2 separate regions of the Homo sapiens genome follow, and region 1 is linked to region 2. The links come from fine-mapping of genetic effects on gene expression. Tissue or cell type: testis. Region 2 holds a variant in brackets; the other region holds the start of a gene. All regions are shown on one strand. Distances are from middle to middle. Region 1 holds the start of INTS6-AS1 (INTS6 antisense RNA 1). Region 2 has its middle 46 kb from the start of MIR4703.

Region 1 (5,375 bases), 53 kb before region 2:
ATTCTATTTTAATTTGGAATGTTTTATACTTGCATTTCATGTTATGTAGTTTTTGGACTGGACTGTGTTTTTCCACAAAATGAAAAATCAACTATTTTGCCACCTTATTATTCAACCTACCTGCCCATAGTTGTCTATGCCAGTTACTAATCTATTTAAATTTAATAAATCAAAAGCTGTCCTTAGGGATTGGCCAAGAGTCGTAAGTCCTTCAGCCTGAAGGTTTTTCAATTCATTCATAAACGTTGCATGGTTTTCTTTCCATCCAGCCTGAAAAGAAAAATGTAAGATTTTTTTTTTTCATTTTTTAAAGCCATGTACACAGAGCCGTTATAATCTGACGTTCACCAAGTAGCAGCTTCACTTTTGGTTGGTTTGGCTTGGTTAACGTGTTAATACTGTACCGCTGCTGAGGAAACTCTCTTCCAAAGGTGGCCCAGGAATAACCCAGCTTCCTCTCTAGGTTTTGGTAGTTAACTGCCTTAATACTTTATAACTTCACTGACAAATTTACTACCTAATCTAATACCCAAAATTTGGGTATGTGAAGGTACTAGTGGAAGCAGATGGGAGCCGGACTTAGGAAGTTAACCTGCAGCTGTCCCACCGGCCCTCTTAGGACGAATCTGACAAGACCAATCCTGGCAGCCCCGCATCTGGCTTCCGGGCCGGCCGGGCCGATTCCCCTTTAATGCAAACCGGGGCTGTGCGCGGCCGGGCCCGGCTGTCACTCCGGCTAACTTGAATAAATATCCCCCACAGTTCATTGCTGCCGCTCACGCCGCGGAGGGGAAATGTCGGCCATGTTGATAGCAGCGCCGCCGCCGCCGCCGCCGCCGCCGCTGCCGGGCCGGGCCGGGAGGGGACGGCGGTGGCCCCGCGACTCCGCGCCGCGCTAGGACGCTGCCGAGCGGGGGAGGGGGTGGGAGCCCGCAGGGAAGAGACCTCAGCGGCTGGGAGCGCAGCGGGTGGGGGAGGGGAGCATAATGAAGGGTGAATGGGGGGGCGGGGAGGGCGAGCGAGGAAGGAACAGGGAAGGGAAGGGAGGAAAGGGGGAGGGCGAGGGCTGTTACCTTGATAGCATAGGGCGGCTCTTCGAAAGTGACCAGCATATACCTGTCTCCTCTGCTGGCAGGGTCCCGGGCACGGAGCTGCGGGACGGGAGGAGGAACAGGGCGGGCGACAGGGAAGCACAGAGGCGAGGTTACGAGGCGGAGAAGGGGCGCCCAGCGGCCCCGCCGCCCCCACAGTACCGCACACGCAGCGGCCACCCCTCCACGCCGTCCCCCACACACAGATCGCTCCCCACACACCGCCCGGGGCCGGAGCCCGGGCCCCGGCCGAACCCGGCTCGCAGCGCCCGCCCGCCCGCGCGGTGGGGGAGGGGGTCCCCGAGCCCGGCAGCTCCCGCAGTCAGGTCCCCGACACCCCCGCCCCGGCCGCCCTCCCCCACCCTGCCGCCCGCGGGCCGCCGGGCCGGGGTCGCCGCCCGGGCTCGGTCAGTCGGTACCTTCATGAAGGTCTCTACCGCGCCTTTGGCCGTGTCCAGGTAGGTGGTGCCCAGATGGCTGCGCTGGTTCATAGAGGCAGACGTGTCTATCAGGAACAGTAAGATGGGCATAGTGCTGGCCGGGGACACCGGGGCCCGAGGTGGTGGAGAAAGAGGAGATGGTAGAGGTGGAGGCGCCGGTGGCGGCGACCGCCGCTACGCGGGGCGGGGGAGCACGGCCCCCGGGAGGAAAACACTGTCTGGGTCTTTCCTCCGGCTGCGGGGAGTTTCTCCCCCGATAGTTGAGAGGAAACTCCCCAGACCCAGTGCTCCCCGTCGTACCCCCGCCTCCGCCTCCTCCTGCCTGCCTGCCCGCTGGGGCGGGCGCCCAGCCGTCTGTCTGTCGGTTCGTCCCCCCCGCCTCGGGGGTCCCGTCCCCGCTCCCGGCCCCTGTGTGTGTCCCAGCGGGAGACGGGCCTGGCTCCCCACCCCACCCCCGGTACAGGAGTGGGGACCTGGGAGCTGGCGAAGAGGGGAGTGGGCTGAGGGAAGATTGGCCCTGGGGCTGTTGGGAGAAGTTTCAGGGACTCCCTCCGCACCCCGGCGGTGTCACCACTTTCTCAGCCCCTCTCGCTACTGAAGCGCTTTTCTCTCTCACACTCCGGTTTTAACTCGGGCAGGGGCTGCGGAGGCTCCGCCCCTGACACGTCCCCGAGCCACGTGATACACCGCCTCGCCGTTCTACTGGTCAGGCCCTATCCTTTCATTAGCATATTTAAACAGCTCAGGGGCGGGGGAAGCTTGTAGGCCGGCTCCGGGGACAGTTATTGAGCACGCGCAGAGGCGGGGCGTCGGGTGCGCGCGAGCGGGCGGGCGGGCCGACCCGGAGGCGGGCTTCGGGAAGGGGCGGGGCCGGACTGCGGAAGGACCGCGAGGTGGGGGCGGGGGCCGCGTCCGCGCGCGCGGGGCGGCCGCGGCGGTGAGCCTGCGCGTCAGGGCCGCCGGCCTCTCCTTGGCTGTTGGAGGTGATAGGGGTCGAGGGGAGGGAAAAAGGGGCTGGCGTCAGCCGCCCCTGTGAGGTGGCCGTAGCGTGGACGAGTAAGAAGGGTTGAGTAAAGTGGACAAACACCTGGTTAGGAGAAGAGGGCAGGCCCGCAGCCGCCCTCCGGAGGAGGACTCGGGGCCTCGCGGGCGCCGGAGGAGGTTCCTGGGCCTCGGAGGGCCGCCCCGGCGCGCCGCCCCGGCGCGAGCGGGCGCGGGCGGGGGAGGGGAAGTGAGAGGTTGTTTATGACCGGGGACTAATCTCCTCCGCGAGTCCCAGCGCTCCCTCTGGGGAGTGCGGTTGAGGGGCTGTCCTCGCACGGAGCCTCGCTCGGCCTCGGGGGAGCCACGAGAGGTGGGAGTTGGACCCGCAGCGGGCCAGGAGCCCTGTCATTGGAGGACCCGCCAAAAAGGAAGCAAACCCTCTTTTTCTTTATCCAACCCCAAATAGCTAGGGCCTAGGGGGAAGACTCACATATCGATAAATGGTTTGTTGCCCGTTTTATTCTCTGGGAAATACAACTGATCTTACCAAAGAAATAACCTGTCTCTTGCCGTGTTTACTTAGAGCCATAGAATACCTGTTTCAGAGCTGAAGGGGACCTGAGCCCATGATAATCCATTACCTCGTGAGAAAGCGGAAAAACTGACTTCAGCTTGCCCAGATGGCGCAGAGAATGGGTTTCCCGTAACCCCGCCTGTGTCTTTCCTTCAGCCTCGTCCCAAATGCCGTGGGAGGGAAGGCACTCTCTGTCAAGCTGCTGTCACCTTACCTGAAGTAAGGAGTCCACGCCTGCATGTCCGAGGAAAACAGTTTTCTCAAACACATTAGTTGAAAAACTGAAGACGCTGCCTAAAATACAAGCTGAGTTAGAGACAGCCCTTGTAAGACTAGGTAGGTATTTACAGGGCCTCTCCCACTAGCTTTGTTTTTCCAGAGTTTGTTCTTTATCCGGAAATTCTTAATTTGCCTACTGATCATTTAAAGAAAGGGTTCTATTAACATTGACACAGAAGAGACACTTTGTGGCACTTTTTAAAAATCTGAGTCTCGTGACTTGGTATAACTTCTGAAACTTACTGTTAATTTATAGCAGAGCTATTTGAGTAATATGCTCTTCTATGAGTATGAACAATAGAAGAAGTGTGATTTTTAAAGTGATTTGGACTACAAAATAAGAGCATGGAATATAGGCTTTACAGCCAGTACTTGCTGAGGATGTACTGTGTATTAGGTGTGGTGCATATAAAAAATAAATAAAATGTGGTCCCTGTCTTCAAAGAGCTTATGTTTTCTAGGAAAATGCTACATATTACTAGCTACTCCAAGGCAGAAAGTTGTTAGACACCAAATCAGAAAAAATAAAAATGTATTACCTTGGGGTGATGCAGGAACATTTTCCAAGGTTTCAGCTTTGCCTTAGTGTTTCTTAAACGGATCATAGATCTGAAGATAAGAATCAGAGTTCTATGGCAAAATACGAGTTATTTTACCAGTTATAAAGATGAAATTTGTCTTTCAACTTGATCATTTGCATAATTTTATACAATTGCTCTTTAGTTCTTTATATTTGTGCTTTTCAAACTGGTCTGTGGACCCCAGCCTACTGAAAACATTCTCTAGGATCATAAGAATTTATTTTAGGAGTCTGTTCATTATTCAGTTTTAAGAAACACTGTCTTAAAGGACTGGTAGGATTTGGATATGGGTAAAGGAAGGGGAAGCTGCTAGTGAAAAGATCTTCCCGACATTGAAAATGTGAAGAAAGGAAGTTAAGACAGCATTGCTGAGGGCTTCCTGAGGAACAGTGAAGTTCAGCTAGGTTGGAGCAACAGGTGCATGTAGAATAGTACAAGATCTAGAAACACAGGTGAGATCTAGACAGTAGAGGGCCTTTATTCCAATCTATGGAGGTTTTTTTTCCCCTATAAATTGGAGATTTATTTTTCAATTGCGTTGCTAAGTAGAAGCAATGTTTGAAAGAAATCAAACTAGACTACTGAAGATTAACATGCGTTCACAATGACCTTACCTATTATTACAGTTATTCGAAATCATTTTTCAGTGGAGCCATTGTCACAGGATCCTTGGAGTGTCACTTTTCCAGCTGGAAAAATGGCACCTCTGCCCGAATTTTGGTCGGGCTCATTCTGCCCACCAGTCCCAGCAGGCTGCACTCTGCTCATACTACGGCCTGGATCCCACACCTGCCAAGTGCAAGCCAGGTGCGGAGCAGCGAGGGGTGTGTGAGCGAGCAAGCATGGGGTCCGGCCACTGTATACAGCCCGGCATGCCAGCTGCAGGAGGGCGGGCAGCTCTAGGGGCTGGCCCCTTGCAAGGCTGTGGCTGGTCCAGGTGTACTGCAAGCAGCTTCCACAGCTGGCACCAGGGAATGCAGTGGCACCTGGAAGCTTGGAGATGCCAGGAGCTGCAGAGCCCCAAAGAGGTTGTCACAGGGAGCTCCTAGGTCTAGGCTTCCTAAAGGGCCACAGCTCTTCTCTCCTCTCTTCCCCCTTCTCTTTCCTTTCTTCTTCTCTTCTTCTCTCTTCTCTTGTTGTGTTGCCCACAACATGGCAAGCAAGGGGCATATTTCAGCCCGTTTGTGTTACAGCTCTTTCAGCCATGCCATTTGGCAGGTCCCGAGTTATTGTCCCACATCCAGGAAGAATGAGGTATGTGGACAAGTGGAGGGTGAGCAAGGCAAAGAGGTGCTTTGTTGAGTGACAGAACAGCTCAGAGGAGACCTGAGGGCAATGAGTAGCTTCTTTCTGCAGGCAGGTCATCCCAATAAGTGTCCAGCTCTCAGCAGAGAGGAGACCCACAATGGGTAGTTCCTCTCAGCAG
Region 2 (5,375 bases):
CTCCCCCCCCTCCCCACCATACTCAGCGTTTTCTATCAAAAGCCCAGGCCTCCTGCCACTGCAGTTAGAACCCTTTCTTCACTTTTCTGGCCTATTTTATTATTAATTCCTAACTTTCTCTGGCAAAAGAAAAATTATCTAGACAATGATTCGCTTCTTTGACAAAACCACTTCATGACAATTATACTAAGTTTTAGGAATTCAATGTAAGCATCACGAATACATTTTTTCCTTTTATATCACCATGGGTCTGGATGCAGAAGAGACCAAGAATTTAGCACTGGAAGAGACCTTGAATCTCAGCTAGCACATATGACCTGGGTTTGTCTAATTATCTATTATATTTGAGGAAATGAAGGAGCAGGAAGGTCTAGTGACCTGCTCAAGCTTGCATGACTAGTTAGCAAGACAACACTGGCTAGATCCTAGCTGATTTCACCCTGCATCTGCTTTCTGTCACTATTGATTAGTTTGTTTTTCCCAAAATTTCAAATAGAATCATACGGTGTGTGTTTTTTGTATCTGGCTTCTTTCACTCAGCATAATGTTTTCGAGATTCATCCACATGGTTGCATATATTGGAAGAATATGCTTTTTTATTGTTGAGTAATTTTTTTTGTAAAGACGTACCACAATTTATTTAGCCGTTCTTCTACTGATGGACATTCAGGTTATTTCCAGGTTTTGGCTATTATAAATAAAGCTGCTATGAACATTCTTGTATTAATATATGGTGTTTTGTGAACATATATTTTTATTTCCCTTGGGTAAGAAATACTTATGAGTAAGTTTGATGGGCCATAGGGTGGGCGCACATTTTGTTTTATAAGAAATTGGTGGTTGCTTTACATCCTCACCCACAGATGGGGTTGCCAGTTTTTTAAATTTTAGTTTTTCTAATGGACACGAAGTTATATCTTATTGTGATTTGGATTTACATTTTCTTGATGATTAAGTTGCATTTCCCTGATGGATTTTCATGCACTTACCAGCCATTCCCCGTACCTTCCTTTGTGAGGTGTTGGTTCAAATCTTTTGCCTATTTAATTGGGTTGTTTTTCTTCTTAATAGTGAGTGGTAAAAGTTTGTTTTATATTCTCAATAAAGTCCTTTGTCAAATATATGTGTTATAAATATATTTTTCCAGTCTGTGGTTTGCATTTTTGTATTTTAAAAGAAGTCATTAGAAGAGCTAATTAAAAACAAAATTTAGGCCAGGTGCAGTGGCTCACACCTGTAATCCCAGCACTTTGGGAGGCCGAGGCAGGCGGATCATGAGGTCAGGAGATCGAGACCATCCTGGCTAACACGGTGAAACCCCGTCTCTACTAAAAATACAAAAAATTAGCTGGGCGTGGTGGCGGGCACCTGTAGTCCCAGCTACTTGGGAGGCTGAGGCAGATGAATGGTGTGAACCTGGGAGGTGGAGCTTGCAGTGAGATGAGATTGCACCACTGCACTCCAGCCTGGGCGACAGAGCAAGACTCTGTAAAAAAAAAGAAAAAAAATTTTAATGAAATCAAATTTGTCATTATTTTCTTGTATGGATTGTGCTTTTAAAATTTCATTTTACTTTATTTTATTATACGTGTTCAGTATTTCTGTCATAGCATGAATCATGCTTTTCTTGTATCTTATCAAAAACATCTTTTTCTTTGCATACTCCACTGCCACAAAGATTTTCTCCCATTTTTTCCAGAAGTTTTATCATTTTAGCTTTCATATTTATGTCTTTAATCCACTTTGAGTAAATTTTTATGTATGGTGTTAGATAGGGTTGAGGTTCATTTTTTTTCATGTAGATTTCTAGTTGCTTTGGTACCATTTTTGAAAAAACTATACTTTCCCATTGAATTATATTTGTACCATTGTTGAATATCAGTTATCATAGGTGTATGTGTTTACTTATGTATTCTATTTTATTATGCTGCTCTACATGCCCATTGTTTGGACAAATCACACTGTCTTGATCACTATAGCTTCTTGAAATCAGGTAGAGTAATTTCTGCAACTGTTTCTTTTGCAAAATTATTTTGACTATTCTTGGTTCTTTTAAAATCCATTTGTCAGTTTTTACAAAAAGTCTGATATACCATAAATATGATATATCACGGCATTTATTTAGACCTTTTTAAAATTCAGCAGTCTTCTATATTTTTCAGTCTATAGGTTTCGTGTATATTTAATTTTCCATAAGTATTTCATTTTTAATGTTACCATAAACAGAATTCTAATTTCATTTTCCAGTTGTTCATTGCTTGTTATATTGTTTATTTTCTTGTATAGAAATACAATGGACTTTTGTATATTAACTTTATATCTCTTCTCTTTTTAATTTGAGACAGGGACTTGCTATGTTGCCCAAGCTTACCTCGAACTTCTAGGTGCCAGTAATTCTCCTGTCTCAGCCTCTTAAGTAGCTGGGATTATCAGCACATGCCACCATGCTGATCTATAGCCTTATTTCTTGAGATTTCATAAGTTCTATTATATTTCTTCTTGGTTCTTAGGGATTTTCTATTAATACAATAATTTTACCTGTGAATAAAGCCAGTTTTACTTCTTCATTCAAATTTATGTTTCTTCTGTTTCTTCCCTTCTTTTTCCACCCTCACCCTCCTTATTGTCTTGACAGATCTCTAGCACAATGTTGAATAGAAATGGTGATAGTGGATACGTTTTCTGTATTCCCAGGGTTAGGAAAAAAACATTCAATCTTTCAACATTAAAGATGATCTTAACCTTAAGTTTTTTGTTTTTGTTTCTGTATTGTAGATGTCCTTTACTAGGTTGAGAAAGTTACCTTTTAATCCAAATCTACTGAGAGATTTTTATCTCTTAATAAATGATGAGTTACATTGATTAATGTTCAAAACATTAACACAATGTTAACCAACCTTGTGTTCCTGGAATAAGCCCTCACTTGTTCACTACATATTATCTCCTTTTTATATCTTGCTGAATTTGATTTGCCAAAATTTTATCTTGAACTTCTTAG[G/A]CCTGAGAATCAGGAGAGTCAATGGTATTAGTGCTTGTCCGGAAGCCATCATGCTTCAAAACCAAGAAGAGCTGATTTTCCAGTTGGAGTCTAAAGGTAAGAAAAGACTGATGTCTCTCAGCTTACGCAGTCAAGCAAGAGGAGTTCCCTCTTACTCCGGGTTTTTGTTCTATTCAGGTCTGGAATTTATTGGATGAAGTCCACCCACGTTAGGGAGGGCAATCTGCTTTATTCAGTCTTCCAGTTCAGATATTATTCTCACCAGAAACTTCCTCACAGGTACATCCAGAGTATTGTTTGATAAAGTGTCAGGATATCCCATGGCCTGGCCAAGTTGATACATAAAAGTAACTATCACACCTCAGAAACAAACATTTGGAACCTTTAAATTTCAAAGTTGAAAGAGAATTAAAAATTCTCTAGTCAGCCACCTTGTTTTGCATGCAATTAAGTGATATCGAGAGATGTAAAGGGCTGACCTAAAAATCACATACATTCATTCATTTATTTAAAAATTCAACATTTATTTTAAAAACTTTTATTAAGTGTTAACCATATAATTGTCATTGAAGATATAAAATTAGTAAAAACAGAAAGTCATTGAATTGTGTATTTAAACAAGTCAGTGTTATGGTACATAAATTATACTTCACATAAAGCTGTTACAAGAAATAAGATCCAGTTCTTTCCATCAAGGAGATGACAGTTTAGTGGAAGTGTGAGACAAGCATAAATGATTACAATAACTTGTGAACACGCTATAACAGCTGTATGCTTAGCCACTTAGCACTGGAGTACCAGGGTTCAGGCCTTGGACCGTTTATATTTTCTTCCCATAACCACTCCCTTCATTATTTCATTCAGTGTCATGGCTTTAAAAATCAATTCCATTTTGATGACTCCCAAATTTTTATCTTCAGCAGATATCACTCCAAAACTCTGAGCTCTTACATTCAACTGACAACCTGTTATCTCTCTTTTAAAGGCTAAAGAGCATCTCAAACTCAACATGTACAAAACCAAATTCTTAGCCTTCCCCTCCAAATCTGCTCCCTTCTACAACCTTCATCTCACTTCATTAGCAGCTTCATCTTTCCAGTTGTTCAGGCCAAAAAACCTTTGACTCATCTTTAATTTCTTCCTTTCTCTCATACACTGCATTTAATCCATCATGAAATCCTATTGGGCCTACCTTCAACATAGATCCAGAATCTGACCACATCCAACTACCTCCTCTGCTACAATCCTGGCCCAGGTCCTCATCTTCTCTTGCCTGATTTATCATCTTATCCCCTAACAATCCATATTCTATAGCAACCAAAGATTCTGGGAACCTTTGAAAATGTAACCCAGATCAAGTCAGTTCTCTGATCAAATTCTCCAACAGCTTCCTATCTCAGTCCTAGTAAAAGCCAAAGTCCCTGGGCACGGTGGCTCATGCCTGTAATCCCAGCACTTTGGGAGGCCAAGGCGGTCAGGTCACCTGAGGTCAGGAGTTTGAGACCAGCCTGGCCAACATGGTGAAACCCCATCTCTACTAAAAATACAAAAAAAAAATTAGCTGGGTGTGGTGGCGGGCACCTGTAATCCCAGCTACTCAGGAGGCTGAGGCAGGAGAATCACTTGAACCCAGAGGCTGAGGTTGCAGCGAGCTGAGATCATGCCATTGCACTCCAGCCTGGGTGACAAGAGCGAAACTCTGTCAAAGAAAAAAAAAAGGCCAAAGTCCTCACAGTGGTCTGCAAGACCCATAAGATCTGGCCCTCCAACTCTACCTTTTGCCAATCTAGTCTTCATTACTCTTATTTCTGCTCACTCTATTCCATCCACATGGGCTTTCTAGCTGTTCTTGAAATATTGGCAAGCTCCTACTGAAAGGCCTTTGCATTTTCTGTTCCCTTTGCCTGGAACTGTCTTCATCCGCACTGGCCACTCCCTCACCTCCTTCAAGCCTTAACTCCCATGTTTCCTTCTCACTGAGGTCTTCCCTGACTACCCTATTTCACGTGGTAAGCATCCCCTCTACTCCACACACACCCCCTCCCCTAGCACTTCTTTCCCCCTTCCCTGATCTATTTTCTCCATAAACACTTACCATCTTCTAACATCCTACATAAATAATTTACTTATTTAGTTCATTGTCTGTTTATCCCTATTAGGCCAAACGCCCCATGGAGGCTTGTCAGTTTTGTTCACCACTGTTTTCCTAGCATCCAGAACAGTAGGCATTTACAAAACATTTGGGTAGTGGAATAATATGTACTTCTCCAGGACTCTTAAGAGAAGAAAATGAGCGGATTTCTTCTGTGACCAGGTCAGAGTGTTTTTTCGGGTGAGGAGTGCTAAGATGAGGGAAAGGTTGCTGGTTGTTAAGGAA

What was found.
Region 1: INTS6-AS1 starts here. The variant in region 2 is fine-mapped to the expression of INTS6-AS1 in testis (GTEx, PIP above 0.99).

The regions. Positions count from the first base shown.
Region 1 is chr13:51,450,905-51,456,279 of GRCh38, forward strand. INTS6-AS1 (INTS6 antisense RNA 1) reads left to right here and starts at 2,441. Exons shown (of 2, transcript NR_103812.1): 1 at 2,441-2,514; 2 at 3,099-3,812. INTS6 (integrator complex subunit 6) reads right to left here and starts at 2,132. Exons shown (of 18, transcript NM_012141.3): 1 at 1,511-2,132; 2 at 1,074-1,151; 3 at 121-270. The coding sequence starts at 1,621. RefSeq lists silencers at 668-717, 778-937, 1,008-1,147, 1,158-1,277, 1,288-1,557 and 3 more and an enhancer at 2,118-2,167.
Region 2 is chr13:51,503,545-51,508,919 of GRCh38, forward strand. No RefSeq gene overlaps it. Among named protein-coding and RNA genes, the nearest start is that of MIR4703, 46 kb to the right of the region's middle. The variant G/A (reference allele first, on the strand shown) is at 2,999.